Regions from separate parts of the Homo sapiens genome. Here region 2 is linked to region 1. The links come from fine-mapping of genetic effects on gene expression. A gene starts in region 1. The other region holds a variant in brackets. All regions are shown on one strand. Distances are from middle to middle.

Region 1 (10,828 bases):
GCTCCACCTCTGGGGGCAGGGCACAGACAAACAAAAGACAGCAGTAACCTCTGCAGACTTAAATGTCCCTGTCTGACAGCTTTGAAGAGAGCAGTGGTTCTCCCAGCACACAGCTGGAGATCTGAAAACGGGCAGACTGCCTCCTCAAGTGGGTCCCTGTCCCCCGAGCAGCCTAACTGGGAGGCACCCCCCAGTAGGGGCAGACTGACACCTCACACGACCGGGTACTCCTCTGAGACAAAACTTCCAGAGGAATGATCAGGCAGCAGAATTTGCGGTTCACGAAAATCCACAGTACAACAGCCACCCCTGCTGATACCCAGGCAAACAGGGTCTGGAGTGGACCTCTAGCAAACTCCAACAGACCTGCAGCTGAGGGTCCTGTCTGTTAGAAGGAAAACTAACAAACAGAAATTACATCCACACCAAAACCCCATCTGTACATCACCATCATCAAAGACCAAAAGTAGATAAAACCACAAAGATGGGGAAAAAATAGAGCAGAAAAACTGGAAACTCTAAAAAGCAGAGCGCCTCTCCTCCAAAGGAACGCAGTTCCTCACCAGCAATAGAACAAAGCTGGATGGAGAATGACTTGGACGAGTTGAGAGAAGAAGGCTTCAGACGATCAAACTACTCCGAGCTACAGGAGGAAATTCAAACCAATGGCAAAGAAGTTAAAAACTTGGAAAAAAATTAGACGAATGGATAACTAGAATAACCAATGCAGAGAAGTCCTTAAAGGACCTGATGGAGCTGAAAACCAAGGCTCAAGAACTACATAAAGAATGCAGAAGCCTCAGGAGCTGATGCGATCAACTGGAAGAAAGGGTATCAGTGATGGAAGATGAATGAAATGAAGCGAGAAGGGAAGTTTAGAGAAAAAAGAATAAAAAGAAAGGGACAAAGTCTCCAGGAAATATAGGACTATGTGAGAAGACCAAATCTATGTCTGATTGGTGTACCTGAAAGTGACGGGGAGAATAGAACCAAGTTGGAAAACACTCTGAAGGATATTATCCAGGAGAACCTCCCCAATCTAGCAAGGCAGGCCAACATTCAGATTCAGGAAATACAGAGAACACCACAAAGATACTCCTCGAGAAAAGCAGCTCCAAGACACATAATTGTTAGATTCACCAAAGTTGAAATGAAGGAAAAAATGTTAAGGGCACCCAGAGAGAAAGGTCGGGTTACCCACAAAGGGAAGCCCATCAGACTAACAGGTGATCGCTCGGCAGAAACTCTACAAGCCAGAAGAGAGTGGGGGCCAATATCCAACATTCCTAAAGAAAATAATTTTCAACCCAAAATTTCATATCCAGCCAAACTAAGATTCATAAGTGAAGGAGAAATAAAATACTTTACAGACAAGCAAATGCTGAGAGATTGTGTCACCACCAGGCCTGCCCTAAAAGAGCTCCTGAACGAAGCACTAAACATGGAAAGGAACAACCGGTACCAGCCACTGCAAAAACATGCCAAATTGTAAAGACCATGGAGGCTAGGAAGAAACTGCATCAACTAATGAGCAAAATAACCAGCTAACATCATAATAACAGAAACAAATTCACACATAACAATATTAACTTTAAATGTAAATGGACTAAATGCTCCAGTTAAAAGACACAGACTGGCAAAATGGATAAAGAGTCAAGACCCATCAGTGTGCTGTATTCAGGAAACCAATCTCATGTGCAGAGACACACGTAGGCTCAAAATAAAGCAAATGGAAAACAAAAAAAGGTAGGGGTTGCAATCCTAGTCTCTGATAAAACAGAATTTAAACCAACAAAGATCAAAAGAGACCAGGCCATTACATAATGGTAAAGGGATCAATTCAACAAGAAGAGCTAACTATCCTAAATATATATGCACCCAATACAAGAGCACCCAGATTCATAAAGCAAGTCCTGAGTGAACTACAAAGAGACTTAGACTCCCACACAATAATAATGGGAGACTTTAACACCCCACTGTCAACATTAGACAGATCAATGAGACAGAAAGTTAACAAGGATACCCAGGAATTGAACTCAGCTCTGCACCAAGCAGACCTAATAGATATGTACAGAACTCTCCACCCCAAATCAACAGAATATACATTTTTTTTCAGCACCACACCACACCTATTTCAAAATTGACCACATACTTGGAAGTAATGCTCTCCTCAGCAAATGTAAAAGAACAGAAATTATAACAAACTTTCTCTCAGACCACAGTACAATCAAACTACAACTCAGGATTAAGAAACTCACTCAAAACCGCTCAACTACACGGAAACTGAACAACCTGCTCCTGAATGACTACTGGGTACATAACAAAATGAAGGCAGAAATAAAGATGTTCTTTGAAACCAACCAGAAGAAAGACACAACATACCAGAATCTCTGGGACGCATTCAAAGCAGTGTGTAGAGGGAAATTTATAGCACTAAATGCCCACAAGAGAAAGCAGGAAAGATCCAAAATTGACACCCTAACATCACAATTAAAAGAACTAGAAAAGCAAGAGCGTACACATTCAAAAGCTAGTAGAAGGCAGGAAATAACTAAAATCAGAGCAGAACTGAAGGAAATAGAGACATAAAAAACCCTTCAAAAAATTAATGAATCCAGAAGCTGGTTTTTTGAGAAGATCAACAAAATTGATAGACTGCTAGCAAGACTAATAAAGAAGAAAAGAGAGAAGAATCAAATAGACCCAATAAAAAATGATAAAGGGGATATCACCACCGATCCCACAGAAATACAAACTACCATCAGAGAATACTACAAACACCTCTACGCAAATAAACTAGAAAATCTAGAAGAAATGGATAAATTCCTCGACACATACGCCCTCCCAACACTAAACCAGGAGGAAGTTGAATCTCTGAATAGACCAATAACAGGCTCTGAAATTGTGGCAATATTCAATAGCTTACCAACCAAAAAGAGTTCAGGACCAGATGGATTCACAGCCGAATTCTATCACAGGTACAAGAAGGAGCTGGTACCATTCCTTCTGAAATGATTCCAATCAATAGAAAAAGAGGGAATCCTCCCTAACTCATTTTATGAGGCCAGCATCATCCTGATACCAAAGCCGGGCAGAGACACAACCAAAAAAGAGAATTTTAGACCAATATCCTTGATGAACATTGATGCAAAAATCCTCAATAAAATACTGGCAAACCGAATCCAGCAGCACATCAAAAAGCTTATCTACCATGATCAAGTGAGCTTCATCCCTGGGATGCAAGGCTGGTTCAACATACACAAATCAATAAATGTAATCCAGCATATAAACAAAACCAAAGACAAAAACCACATGATTATCTCAATAGATGCAGAAAAGGCCTTTGACAAAATTCAACAACCTTCATGCTAAAAACTCTCAAGAAATTCTGTATTGATGGGACGTATCTCAAAATAGTAAGAGCTATCTATGACAAACCCACAGCCAATATCATGCTGAATGGGCAAAAACTGGAAGCATTCCCTTTGAAAACTGGCACAAGACAGGGATGCCCTCTCTCACCACTCCTATTCAACATAGTGTTGGAAGTTCTGGCCAGGGCAATTAGGCAGGAGAAGGAAATAAAGTGTGTTCAATTTGGAAAAGAGGAAGTCAAATTGTCCCTGTTTGCAGATGACATGATTGTATATCTAGAAAACCCCATTGTCTCAGCCCAAAGTCTCCTTAAGCTGATAAGCAACTTCAGCAAAGTCTCAGGATACAAAATCAATGTACAAAAATCACAAGCATTCTTATACACCAATAACAGACAAACAGAGAGCCAAATCATGAGTGAACTCCCATTCACTATTGCTTCAAAGAGAATAAAATACCTAGGAATCCAACTTACAAGGGATGTGAAGGACCTCTTCAAGAAGAACTACAAACCACTGCTCAATGAAATAAAAGAAGATACAAACAAATGGAAGAACATTCCATGCTCATGGGTAGGAAGAATCAATATCGTGAAAACGGCCATACTGCCCAAGGTAATTTATAGATTCAATGCCATCCCCATCAAGCTACCAATGACTTTCTTCACAGAATTGGAAAAAACTACTTTAAAGTTCATATGGAATCAAAAAAGAGCCCGCATCACCAAGTGAATCCTAAGCCAAAAGAACAAAGCCGCAGGCATCACGCTACCTGACTTCAAACTATACTACAAGGCTACAGTAACCAAAACAGCATGGTACTGGTACCAAAACAGAGATATAGATCAATGGAACAGAACAGAGCCCTCAGAAATAATGCCACATATCTACAACTATCTGATCTTTGACAAACCTGAGAAAAACAAGCAATGGGGAAAGGATTCCCTATTTAATAAATGGTGCTGGGAAAACTGGCTAGCCATATGGAGAAAGCTGAAACTGGATCCCTTCCTTACACCTTATACAAAAATTAATTCAAGATGGATTAAAGACTTAAATGTTAGACCTAAAACCATGAAAACCCTAGAAGAAAACCTAGGCAATACCATTCAGGACATAGGCATGGGCAAGGATTTCATGTCTAAAACACCAAAAGCAATGGTAACAAAAGCCAAAATTGACAAATGGGATCTAATTAAACGAAAGAGCTTCTGCACAGCAAAAGAAACTACCATCAGAGTGAACAGGCAACCGACAAAATAGGAGAACATTTTCCCAACCTACTCATCTGACAAAGGGCTAATATCCAGAATCTACAATGAACTCAAACAAATTTACAAGAAAAAAACAAACAACCTCATCAAAAACTGGGCGAAGGATATGAACAGACACTTCTCAAAAGGAGACATTTATGCAGCCAAAAGAGACATGAAAAAATGCTCCTCATCACTAGCCATCAGAGAAATGCAAATCAAAACCACAATGAGATACCATCTCACACCAGTTAGAATGGCAATCATTAAAAAGTCAGGAAACAACAGGTGCTGGAGAGGATGTGGAGAAATAGGAACACTTTTACACTGTTGGTGGGACTGTAAACTAGTTCAACCATTGTGGAAGTGAGTGTGGCGATTCCTCAGGGTTCTAGAACTAGAAATACCATTTGACCCAGCCATCCCATTACTGGGTATATACCCAAAGGAATATAAATCTTGCTGCTATAAAGACACATGCACACGTATGTTTATTGCGGCACTATTCACAATAGCAAAGACTTGGAACCAACCCAAATGTCCAACAACGATAGACTGGATTAAGAAAATATGGCACATCCACACCATGGAATACTATGCAGCCATAAAAAATGATGAGTTCATGCTAAATGACGTGCATTATGGGTGCGAAATGTGCTAAATGGGTGCAGTACACCAACTTGGCACATGTATACATATGTAACAAATCTGCAAATTGTGCACATGTACCCTAAAACTTAAAGTATAATAATATTGCTGGTTTAATTAAATCAGCAAACTTTAAGTAGGTTTTTATTTACCAAAGATTATGTAAAACCACGTGAACTTGAAAAACACTTAGGTTAGTTTCTCTTTTTCTGAGATAACAATTTATATAAGTTTTTTTTTCTTTTAAGCCAAATCTTCACATAGGTACCAATAGGACAGTTACTTAGGATGAGAGTTCTCTTAAAAAAAATACTTTTAGATACAAAAGTCCAAATTTTCAAAGGTATACCTACTTCAGTTTTGACTCAAAACTGATCATCTTTTTATGGTTTAATCATGGACAAAAGAGGCATCCATAAAGAGGGTACAGAAGTCCCACCCCCACCCCAGATCCAAAGTTTCCTCCAAGGATACCTAAGAAAGTGAAGACCCTCATTGTTAACAGGGCAACAAAGGCTGAGACAATTACGACAAACTGTCCTGAGAGCTGGCACAGTTCATACAAAGAGACACTTCTTGTTTCAGAATCCTGGAGAGCTGGCTAACTGCTGGGCACAAGCCCAACAGCTTGAGCCCCAGGCTGATAGAAACCAAAGAGCACATTTTCACTGATTACAAAGCCAAGCTCTTATGACTTCAGAGAAGATGAAGCAGAGTCTGATGCAGGACAGGTGAGCCTCAAAATTGGGGATCAACCTGAGAGGGTTGTTGGCTTCACCCAGGAACGAACTCAAGGGTGAGCCAGTGGTGACAGAAAGCAGTGTTTATGGAGCCAGTGCTGCTCCTTGCAGAGCAGGGCTAACCCATAAGCAGTGTGCCCAGAGTCAGCAATGTGTAAGCTGTTGGCAGCTGTATTTATACCCACTTTTAATTATATGCTAATTAAGAGGTGGATTATTCAGAACATTCTGGAAAAGGGGCCGAGAGCGTCCAGAACCATATATGGTAACTTCCAGGCCATTGCTATGGCCCATTGCCATGGCATGTGTAAACTGTCACGGCACCCATGGGAATGTCTTTATGCTAATGAGTAGTGAGGGCAACTACAGGTCACTTTCATGGCCATCTGCTTATTTTGGCTGGCTTCTTCACTGCATTCTGTTTCAACCATATCCTTTCAAACCAGATCAGTGAGGTCATGACCAGAAAACAAGCCCTGCCAGCCTCCTACCTCAAATCTAATTAATTATAATTTTCTTCCTTATGACAACCCACACAAAAGACAGAGATAAGAAAAACAAGGACTTCCTGGGAGGCTGTGGATCAATTACCAATGGACACCCAGAAGCAAATTCACAAGACTCACAATTCAAAGAACCAATTTTTTACAATTTTTTTTTTCCTGTCAGTTGAATTTGGGAAGGAAGGAACACGCAAAAATTTTTACCTTCTTCTTTCAATTGGACACTATGGACGGAAATCCAGGAGAGCTGACCTTGGTAAGAATTCCTACTTTCTTCCATCATTTATTAGGCCCCTCAGGATCCCATCTGCAGGCTCCAGAGTGAGTCGGAAGGTGCTCAGCCTTTTAGGACAGAAACTGTTGGGACAGAAGAATACTACTTCACCCTTTTAGGGTCCCAGGAGGGTCCAAGAATTACATTGACATAACATAGATTAACAGGAGCAAAGCACAACACAAGTTTTACATAGCATAGGAGCCTCATAAAGAAATAAAGACACAAAGAAGCTGTCAGAGTCAGTTAATTCTTTACCAGATTTGACAAAGAATTATAAACTGTAAACATGTGATCAGGCAAAGGGTCTTGGGCTAGGGTGGTTAACTGGATAGAGAAGTAGCCAGCATGACAAGTGTTAGTTGAACAAGGCTTGTTTGTACAAAATTCGTTCCACTTCAACTTTCTTGTCCTTGATGATAAGAACCTTGCTTTTTCTCTAGTGTAGGGAGGACATCTTTCACATGGGAATTTCATCTTCTGCTTTTAAGAAAATGAAGTTCAGACTGATCTCTTTGCACCTGCTGTTTTTCAAGTGCCTTTAACTGAAATAGTCAACCTACCAAAAGAGCATATTTTAGCCCCTTCAGGAATGTTGATTTTGTTTATTTTCACGCATTGCTTTTATAATTATAAAAGCTCATTTTATAATTATATAAAAGGAGACCTGGGAACACCAGCCTTCTTCCCTCTACATACAGGAACTGCAGACACTGCAGATAAAACAGAGCCAGAATGCTTTGCTGCCAGCTGGACCTTTGACCCAAACCCCAGTGTGACTGTCTCCGGTGCTCACTCAACTGCAGTGCATCAATGAAGGTAACTTTCTGTCCAGATCATGGAGTCTACATGAAAAGAAATCAATGCAATCCTATTTTTTTTTTTTTTTACTGCTTTCTCTCTCTCAATTCTTGGATTAAAGAAAAACAGCAGACCCTGATGGTGCCCAGCTCAGACCCCCTCTGAAGCCTTTTACCAGCCCTGTGCATCCAGCCCAGCCCCTGTATGCCCTGCTGCTAAGTTTCCCCTGAGCACTGGGGCCTTCCCTGGAGAGCTGGAACAACTTGGCAACTCATTCTCAGCCCTTCCCATCCCCCCTAAGCCACAGCCAGTGACTGACCATTGTGGGAATACAAAAGCCCAGCACCTGTGCCTTGGAGAGGACAAACTCTGAGATATCATCTCTGCTTCAGCACACCACTCAAGACCAAGATGAGGCTGGGGTGTCACCCAAGATGATACACTTGTTGAGTCTCCTCTCCTCCCCTATTTGTGCCCCACCCCCAACTCCCTCACTGGTACATCTCGGGAGCACTGCCTCAACAAATCCCTTGCATTGAATCCTTGGCTCAGGCTCTGCTTCTAGGAGAATATGACCTACTGGGGACAATAGTAATGGTGAATACAGTGGTGAACCAAACAAAGCAGGCTTTGACTTCATGAAGCTAATGGGGAAGAATAACTATCATTTCATTGATTGGATGCTTGGCACAGAAGGAGGAGTACCTATATTCATAGATGAATTCTGTCAGGCAAGGTGGGGGAGTTGCTTCAGCCATCCTCTTTGGTGCTTATTCTAAGTGTGCTGTTTCCAGCATCCCAGCTTCTCAAATGCACTGTGCTGCCTTCAGACACAGGGCCTACGGAAAGTGTGTCCACATTTATTGGGAGGGGGAGAGCCAACCTTCGCCTTTGTGCCAAGTCTCCTAAGAACAAACACGCAGAGCCTGCTCCCAGATGGACAAAGGTCCAACTCCCTTTGTCTTCCCCTTAGAAGGCAGTCTCCTGAGACTCTGCCTTGAAGAAGTAGGATTGTGTCTGATGTGTTTATGTTTGTGGGGTTTTCATGTGTTTTCTTTTTTATCTTCCCTAGGAAAAAAGAACTGAGCATTGGCAAAAAGCTGAGGATGACAAGCTTAGGGGATGAAAGGCTGCCTTTTCCCCCCCTTCTGAGCGTTTCTGACAGCTCCCAGCTGGGAGAAACCAACATGACGAAAAGACAAAGAATACTGGAGAAGAGAGAGGGTGGGCAGAGCCACAACCTCATCCTCCCAGTGGTTCCTCTTGAGTTTGATTTGACAAGATGCCTTCCCACCCAGGTAACCCCGTGGGAACGTGCCAGTACCTCACCGCACGACCTCACTGAGTCCTCACAACAAATCCAGGCTGCAGATTTTTTTCCCCACTTGGAGATGACAAATTGAAATGCAGGAAGGTTAAAGAGTTTGCCTGAGGTTGCTTAGATAATAAAAGAATCTGGATTAGAACCCAGACCTACCCAGCTAAACAACTGAGTCCTTTTTTACTGGATTACACCTATCTCATGGGCATAATTTTATCTACAGTCTCTCTCTATTCCAGTGTTTAAGATAAATCCTGTGAGGGTTAAATGAGATCATGCATGTTCAGCACTTAGCCTGGAGACTGGTGTCAGACAAGCACTCTATAAATGCTACCTAGCCTTGTTATTGCTGTTGATGGTGTTGCTGCTGTTTTTGTTATTGTTACTGCTGCTGCTGCTACTGCTCTTGCTATTTTTGCTGCTGTTTCTGCAGATTATGTGGTTGCTGATGTTTTTGCTGTTGTTGGTGACAGTGTTTTCACTACTGTTCTGATTATTTTTGATACCGCTGTTGTTGCCATTTTGTGGCAGTTGTTGCTGCTGATGTGCTGCTACTGTTGCTGTGATGATGCTGTTGACATTGTCACTGTGGATGTTGCAATGATGCTGTTGACAGTGTCACTGTGGATGCTGTGATGATGTTGTTGCTGTGGATGTTGTGATGATGCTGTTGAAGCTTTACTGTGGATGCCGTGATGGTGGTGTTGACACTTACTATGGATGTTGTGATGACGCTGTTAACACATTTACTGTAGATGTTGGCGTGATGCTGTTAACACAGTTGCTGTGGATGTTGTGATGATGTTACTATGGGCACAGTGATGTGCTGTTGACACTATTACTGTGGGTGCCGTGTCACGATGAGGCTATTGACACTATTACTACAGGTGTTGTGATGATGCTGCTGATGTTGTTTCTTGATACTGTTATATCGCTGTTGATGTTGTAACTATGGAAGTAGTGATGATGCTCTAGACACTGTTTCTGTAGATGTTGTGATGCTGCTGTTGGCATTGTTACTGTGGGTGTTGTGATGATACTGTTGACATTACTGCGGGTGTTGTGATGATGCTGTTGATGCTGCTACTGCGGATGTTGTGATGATGCTGTTGGCGTTGTTACTGTTAATGTTCTTGCTGATGTGGTTGACAGTGCTATTGTTGCTATTTTTATTCTTGTTGCTGAGATGTTATTCTATTGTCGTTGTTGCTGCTGTTGGCACTACTGCTGTGCTGCTATTGTTGATGTGATAATGTTGTTGACGTTACTAATGTTGATGTTGTTGTTGATGATGTTGGTGTTAATATACCCATCCAGACTCACTACTTTTGTTACACACTTCCAAACCAAATTTAATGTAGGCATAACTTACTAGTCGTACAAGGATATATATATAGCTTACCCCTCATGTTTCCACGGAGGCCGAGAATTTCCATTCCACTCTCCGGGAGAGATTTTGAGAGCCATCTGTAGCCTCTGCCTCCTTGCTGAATGGGGCACACTCCTCTCAGCCATCCCTTTCAGAAATCTATGCTGGTCAATGGTACATGTGACTGGGAGAATGAGGCTACCTCATTCAGGGGGTAAAGTAGGAGGAATCCCATATGGCTACCCACCTCAGGTACATGGGTCAATTCAGCCTTTTAGTGTGATATTTTCATCCTCATCTGTCTCGCTCCTGTGTCTTAATTGGTTCAAAATTAGGAGATGAAGAAATAGGTGCTATATTTACCTCCAAGACAACAACCAAGTCTTCGTGATATAATTCAATTCGCTTTTTACCTCCCCGAAGAATCCTTTCCTTATTTCTACAACCCACAGTGGTCTCACCCAACTATGAAGTTTTATAGCAGTTTGTTATTTTCTCACATGCCAATAAATATTGTGAAATATGTGAACCTGGCTAGACTGTGA
Region 2 (8,000 bases), 23 kb after region 1:
TTAGTATACAGAGTATACCACAAATAACAAAATTGGCAAAAATACATTACAAATAAAAACCAGTTTCCTAGCCCAACAGGAGGTAAGGTGCCAGGGGGACGAGGAAGAGAGGAGAATCGGGAAAGGGGCTGATGGGAGTGTGTTCCAGAAGGAGTTCCACACCAAATCCCTCCAGGAAGAACCATAGGGGTGGGGGATAATAGGGAATATTATAGAAACCCCAGGTAGGTAAGAGGTCAGGGGAACCGGAGAGGGAAATGGTACCTGCTTATTAATTGCAGTTCCAGCCCCTGTGGGGTTGGCACCAGGGCTGCGAGGGGCATCTGGGCAGGACACTCTCACAGCATCCACCACCCCTGCATAGCACATTTCTTGTGCCCAGAAAGGGGTGCAGGCCTCAGGCCTCAGGTCTCAGCTAAGCCCGAGGGCTCCAGGGCCATCATGAGGAGACCCAAGCACAGGTGACAGTGTGGGCACCCTCGTGACCAGTGGACAGGAGATCGACCTCAGAACATCAGGTCGGCAAATTGTGCACCTCCAGGTGCTCACGCGGTGGAACTGGGCACCAGACACCCACTTGCCACATGAAAACTGAAATCTATGAGAGAAGAGGGAGGGAGACACCCTGCGGTCACCTGAGTTTAAACTAAAATTAACTAGGAAATCACTGAATTTGACAGGGCTTACCTGGCCACAACCTAAGGCTTTTTGCAAAATGAATGTTGGCTAGAAATGGAAATGAAGTTGTTATGGAAAAAAAAAAAAAGAGAGAAAATTCTGTTTTCACAACCTTTATCTGCAAGTTGTCAAATAGTGGATCAACAGCAGAAGGAATTGATTGGTCCCTGCTTTCACAGAGCCCTCTGAGATTCAAATTTATTTTCTCTGGAAATAATTTGATTATCCGTCTCATGCTACCCCCCACACACATGCACGCACACAAGAGGTGCAATTCTGTGGAAAGTTTGGGTACCTCCCATACTCATTAGCCTTCAAAACAAGTGCAACACAATCAGTGCAGGAGTCAGAGAGCTGAGAGTGACTCCGTGGGAAGCCCTTGGCTGTTCAATCCTCCCAGGTCCCCAAGAGGGAAGAGTAGACTCCCATAATTCAAAAAAAATGAAACAGCTTCAGGACAAATCACCAGAGTTCTCCGCATATCACACTGGATGTTCACTTTGTAAACTCCAAAAATAGAATCACAGAGAACTAAACAGAGAAGAGAGGGGGTGAGGAGTTACCAATACTGTGGGGAAAACATGGAGTGAGTGACCACCGTTGGATGCTCAGGATTGGGACCCACAGATCAAAACTCGGTTTCTCAACCTGTTCCTCCCAAGGACATACAGATCCAGCCCTGCAGCCCCCAGCACCAGCCCTGCCCACCCTGGCTCCCTTAGCTTCAGAGCCTCCTCACTCCTGTCTCTCCAGCCACAGTAAAATCCCTACAGCACTGGCACTGCACCTCAAGCCTGAGCACATGCTGTTCCTTCTGCTTCCAACACCCTTCACTGACACAGCCTGCTGCTCGGCCCTCCAGGCTCAGGTGCAACGTTCTATTCTTCGTGTAGTTTACCTGAGGCACTCCCAGAAAGGGGGCTTCCTTCCACAATGCTTCACAACACCTATAGATGGCCCTGTATGGGATCTGTGTCCCCATGTAGATAGTGAGCTCCTCTCCAGGAGACATTCGCTCATTCATTCATTCATCCATTGAACAAACATTTACTGAATATCTACTAGATGCCCATAAATAAATGACACACAGAAATGGTTGAAAGAATAAATAGATAATGATTCCACTTTCAGGCCAGGGAAGTCAGTATGGTGTGTTAGAAAGAACACAGGCTTCCGAGTCAGACAGATGAGTTAGAAGCCTGACTCTGGAATTTGCTAAGCTGGTGACTCTGAGGGAATTACTCATCTGAGCCCAGTTTCCTCAGATATAAAAATGAGAACAGTAACAGGTAATGTTTGCTTCTGATATTATTATTCATTACTCAAAACACAGAGTTATCAGGAGGAAGCAGGAATCTATGCAGAAGACAGGAGCTTCCTCTCCCTGCAAGAGAAGAGGCTGGACCATCTCTGGTTCCCTACTGGCCACATGGGAATTTGGCAGAGACGAGTTACCTACCCAAACCCTTTCTCCCTTTCTATCATACTAGAGAGTCCCAATTTAAAATGACCTTTCTTATCATCCCTTGCAAGTTGGGGTGGTCATGGGACTCAGTTCTGTATAAAGATTTAGTATAAAGATTATACCACAAATAACAAAATTGGCAAAAAAAACCATTACAAATAAAAATCCATTTTCTAGTCCAACAGGAGGTAAGGTGCTGCAGGGATGAGGAAGAGAGGAGAATTGGGAAATGATTTGCAAGAAGATGTCACTAAGTGGGGCTTCTGGAAAAGCTCTTAAAAGGGAAAAGAAGACATTTATGCAGCCACAAAACACATGAAAAAATGCTCACCATCACTGGCCATCAGAGAAATGCAAATCAAAACCACAATGAGATACCATCTCACACCAGTTAGAATGGCAATCATTAAAAAGTCAGGAAACAACAGGTGCTGGAGAGGATGTGGAGAAACAGGAACACTTTTACACTGTTGGTGGGACTGTAAACTAGTTCAACCATTGTGGAAGTGAGTGTGGCAATTCCTCGGGGATCTAGAACTAGACATACCATTTGACCCAGCCATCCCATTACTGGGTATATACCCAAAGGACTATAAATCATGCTGCTATAAAGGCACATGCATACGTATGTTTACTGCGGCACTGTTCACAATAGCAAAGACTTGGAACCAACCTAAATGTCCAACAACGATAGACTGGATTAAGGAAACGTGGCACATATACACCATGGAATACTATGCAGCCATAAAAAAATGATGAGTTCATGTCCTTTGTAGGGACATGGATGAAACTGGAAACCATCATTCTCAGCAAACTATCGCAAGGACAAAAAACCAAACACCGCATGTTCTCACTCATAGGTGGGAATTGAACAATGAGAACACATGGACACAGGAAGGGGAACATCACACACCAGGGACCATTGTGGGGTGGGGGGATGGGGCAGGGATAGCATTAGGAGATATACCTAATGCTAAATGACGAGTTAGTGGGTGCAGCACACCAACATGGCACATGTATACATATGTAACAAACCTGCATGTTGTGCACATGTACCCTAAAACTTAAAGTATAATAATAATAAAATTGAAAAAAAAAAGGGAACTGACATAGCTATTACACTTTGCTCTATTGCTTTCTCCATCTGATGGCAGCAGCAGCCTGTCTAGAGTGGCTGCTGCCATCATGCTGGCTGCAGCAAGGAGGCATACTCCATGGAGCTGGTGGGAGCCAGGGACAAGTGGGAGCCCTGCACCTTCCAGATTGGTGGGGAAGGAGCTTCCCTGGTGCAGCCACAGCTGCCCAAGTTGTGACTGTGGAACCAGGCCTTCTACTCCATGGAGCAGGCAGGAGCCCCACCCCTGTGGCCACAGCTACAGCCTCCCAAACCACAGCTGCAGACTCAGGAATCTCTGCACTCTTGGGGGTCCAGGAAGGCCCCCATGCCCTTGCAGGCTCAGAAATGCCTGCTCCCACTGCCTGGCTTCTCCCTGCTGTTGGTGCCTGCTCCGATCTCAGAGCAAAGTCAGGGCCAAGTCACAGCTTCGCCAGGTGTGCACACACTTTGGGCGGTGCTGACATGCCAGCCCCCCACTGCCTCAGCCCCCTCTGGACTTTGGACACCAATAAGCATAGGAGGGAAGCCAAAGGGGTGCTGAAGGCAGCTTATGGCTGGCCTGCAGGTGCCTCTTGGCACCTACAGCCTGGGCGCCATGAATGGCAGCAGGAGGCAGAGAGGTTCCTGGGTGGAAGGGGGCAGATCCCCAGTGAGGCACCACCTTCAGGCCCTCCTTCAGGGAGGGAGGATCTGTAGGCTGGGGGCCCAGCTGCCGGTCCCACGGACCAGAGTGGGAACTTGTGGTGCCTTTTCCAGGCCATTCATGGCCATCCATGGACCAACTGGCATACACTTCCTCCCCTCTGAAGCCCATACAAGCCCCAGGTTCAGCCAAAGCTGAGCAGACATCAGGATGACCAGCTGCAGAGAGGAGCTACCCACTCCTGGGCCTCCTCTGAGCTACTGTGTCACTCAATAAAGCTCCTCTTCACCTTGCTTACCCTCCACTTGTCTGCGTGCTTCATTCTTCTTGGACGCAGGATAAGAACTTGGGACCTGCGGAAGGCAGGCTGAAAGAGCTATAACACAAACAGGGCTGAAACATACCCCTTGCTCGCCATGTTGTGGTTGAAGAGAAGAGAAGAGCTTCAGCCCTTCAGTAAGCCCAGACCTGGGAGCTCCCTGAGCCAAGGCTGTGACTTCCTCTTTGGGGCCCAGTGGTTCCTGGATTCTCCAAGCTTCCGTGTGCCACCGCATTCCCCAGTGGCAGCCATGGAAGCTACCTGTGGTGCACCTGGTCTAGCCACAGCCTC[G/A]CAGAGAGTCGGTGCCCACGCCGGCACCTGGAGCTGCCCACCCCATTGCAGCAGCTGGTGTGCCTGACTGTGCACGGTGGCTGGACCCCTCGCTGGTTCACTCACACACCCCTTGCCACTCCATGCCTTGCTGCCTTTGGCAGGCATGGGATCTAGGCTGGTAGTGTGAGCCAAGCACAGCCTGCCAGGACAAGTGGGAAAAATGAACCCAGCAGGCCCAAGCAAAACTTGGGCAAAGGTGCCACCAGCCACAGAGATTTCCAGCCAGAAAAGTGATACCCCAAAGATCCCTCAAAACTTCTCTTCACCTGGAATGAGGAAGAAATGATGGGAGCTGCAGCAGCCACCTTGAAACCATGAGACAACCTTGAGGGTGGAAGCCATGCATCTAGGATGACCAAGCAGAAAGATGGCATTGATGACATTGTGGAGCTCTTCTCCAGCCCACCTTGCCTACTTCTAAGTTGTGTGTCACATGTGAGGAAATTAAACACATATTTTATTTAAATCACTACTATTTACATGCAGTGGAACTCAATGTTTATCTGATGCAGAGAGTGTCTGCAGAAAATTTACCCAATCATAGAAAAGTACAATAATTGCTAAGAAGAATCATTTTGTGGTTGATTATTGTTATGTGAAATGGATTTTAGATACCCCTAAGCCAGAAATATGATTACAAGGTAAAATATGAAAAATTATTTTCTCTATTCCAAACCTGTGATTTCAGATATCATTTTTTGTGCTCTTATCTGATGACAAAGGCAATAGAGATTCATTTACACAAATTTGGAAGCTACAGAAGGCACAAAGGAAAAATAAAAGAAAATCACCTGTAGATGACCCTCCAGGGACAAGCAGTGCTAACATTTGCTCTACTTTCCTTGTTGTTTTTATTTATATGTACTCACTTACTAAAACAAGAGCCCTTCCTTCCTTCCTTCCTTCCTTCCTTCCTTCCTTCTTTCTTTCTTTCTTCCGTCCCTCCCTCCCTCCCTCCCTGAATAGACAGTGATTGAAGGCTGGGTACTATCATTTAATACTGCTTCTTTTTTTATTACCATTATTTACTAAAGCTTTCTCAGGTCATCAAATATTCATTAACATAATTTTGAAACTGAATAGCAACAATAAAACTAACCTACAATTTTTATATTAAGATATATTGTTATAATGTCAATATAATTTCATCAATAATACAACACAACTAGCCATCATTGATTAGGCACTTAACCTGTACTGGGTACCCGGGTACGGGAGTTTGCTTTCTATTTTACTCCCTGCAATAATTGTAAGATGAGGATTGTTTCATATCCTCCTTCGACAGGGGAATACAATGAGTAGTAAAGAGGTTGAAGAACTTGTCCAGGGTCTCACAGGTAGTCTGAGGGGCTAAGCAGAGCCTAACACAGGGGCTGTCCCCTGACAATGCCCACATGTGCATCTCCCATTCTGCCACACAGATTTTCTTCATAGTGATTTAAAGCATTTACCCATTTTCCAGCTGATGTGCTCATCATTGGACATTTAGTCTTTCTGATCTTCACGATCCGCTTACTTAGCCAGTGATACAGTCTCCATTTTACAAATAAGAAAAATGAAGCTGTGAGGTCAAACCCTCTCACAGAAGTGACAGAACCGAGAATGAACCCAGAATTCTGATTCCAAATACCAAGGACTTTGAGGTTTTTAATAAAAGTAATGCATATCCAAAGTTTAGAAGTAAATAACTGAATGAATTTTATGGCATAAGACAACAGGCCCTGCTCACTCTTCCTTCCCTTTATATGGTTTTGCTGTATCCCCCCAAATCTAATCTTGAATTCCCACATGTTGTGGGAGGTAATTGAATCATGGGGGCTGGTCTTTCCTGTGCTGTTCTTGTGATAGTGAATAAGTCTTATGAAATCTGATGGTTTTAAAAATGGGAGTTTGCCTGCACAAACTCATTTTGCCTGCTGTCATCCATGTAATATGTGACTTGCTCGTCCTTGCTTTCTGCCATGATTGTGAAGCCTCCCCAGCCATGTGAAACTGTAAGTCTATTCAGCATTTTTCCTGTATAAATTGCCCAGTCTCGGATGTGTCTTTATTAGCAGTGTGAAAATGAACTAATACAGTAAATTGGTACTGGGAGTGGGGTGCTGCTGAAAAGATACCCAAAAATGTGGAAGCAACTTTGGAACTGGGTATCAGACATGTTGGAACAGTTTGGAGGGCTCAGAAGAAGACAGGAAAATGTGGGAAAGTTTGGAACTCCATAGAGACTTGTTGAATGGCTTTGACCAAAATACTGATAATGATATGGACAATGAAATCCAGGCTGAGGTGGTCTCAGATGGAGATGAGGAACCTGTTGGGAACCAGAGCGAAGGTGACTCTTGTTATGTTTTAGCAAAGAGACTGGTGGCATTTTGCCCCTATCCTAGAGATTTGTGGAACTCTGAACTTAAAGAGATGATTTAGGGTATCCGGCGGAAGAAATTTCTAGCAGCAAAGCATTCAAGAGGTGACTTGCGTGCTGTTAAAGGCATTCAGTTTTAAAGGGGAAACAGAGCATAAAAGTTTGGAAAATTTGCAGCCTGAGAACGCAATAGAAAAGAAAATCCTATCTTCTGTGGAGAAATTCAAGCCAGCTGCAGAAATTTGCATAAGTAATGAGGAGCCCAATGTTAATCCCCAAGACAATGGGGAAAATGTCTCCAGGGCAGGTCAGAAGTCTTCACAGCAGCCCCTACCATCACAGGCCTGGAGGCTTAGGAAGAAAAAGTGGTTTTGTGGGCCTGGCCCACGGTCCCCATGCTGTGTGCAGCCTAGGGACTTGGTGCCCTGCATCCCAGCTGCTCCAGCCATGGCTGAAAGGGGCCAACATAGAGCTCAGGCTGTGGCTTCAGAGGATGCAAGCCCCAAGCCTTGGCAGCCACGTGGTGTTGAGCCTGTGAGTGCACAGAAGTCAAAAATTGTGGTTTGGGAACCTCTGCCTAGATTTCAGAAATTGTATGGAAATGCCTGGATGTCCAGGCAGAGGTGTGCTGCAGGGGTGGGGCCCTCATGGAGAACCTCTGCCAGGGCAGTGTGAAAGGAAAATGTGGGGTTGGAGCACCCACACAGAGTCCCTACTGGGGCATCACCTAGTGGAGCCGTGAGAAGAGGGCCACTGTACTCCAGACCCCAGAATGGTAGATCCACTGACAGCTTGCATCATGCACCTGGAAAAGCTGCAGACACTCAATGCCAGCCCATGAAAGCAGCCAGGAGGGGGGCTGTGCCCTTCAAAGACACAGGGGTAGAGTTGCCCAAGACTAGGGGAACTCACCTCTTGCAACAGCATGACCTGGATGTGAGACATGGAATCAAAGGACATCATTTTGGAGCTGTAAGATTTGACTGCCCTGCTGGATTTTGGGCTTGCATGGGGCCTGTAGCCCCTCTCTTTTGGTCAATTTCTCCCATTTGGAATGGCTGTATTTACCCAATGCCTGTACCT

Which allele goes with the higher level. Alleles are on the strand shown, and positions count from the first base shown. SD is a standard deviation of normalised expression in the study named.
For the expression in thyroid of the gene that starts at base 5,847 in region 1, G is the low allele of the variant in region 2 and A is the other (moderate effect, 0.54 SD a copy in GTEx).

The links. PIP is the estimated chance that this variant, and not a neighbour inherited with it, causes the effect.
Region 2: its variant is fine-mapped to the expression of LINC01587 in thyroid (GTEx, PIP 0.94).

Annotation. Positions count from the first base shown.
Region 1 is chr4:5,518,723-5,529,550 of GRCh38, forward strand. LINC01587 (long intergenic non-protein coding RNA 1587) reads left to right here and starts at 5,847. Exons shown (of 4, transcript NR_126519.1): 1 at 5,847-6,006; 2 at 6,685-6,774; 3 at 7,494-7,611; 4 at 8,666-9,079. It also overlaps a transcript of EVC2 not described here. RefSeq lists an enhancer at 6,232-7,431.
Region 2 is chr4:5,543,497-5,551,496 of GRCh38, forward strand. LOC124900166 (a long non-coding RNA gene) reads right to left here and starts at 6,395. Exons shown (of 2, transcript XR_007058006.1): 1 at 1-6,395. It also overlaps a transcript of EVC2 not described here. The variant G/A (reference allele first, on the strand shown) is at 4,514.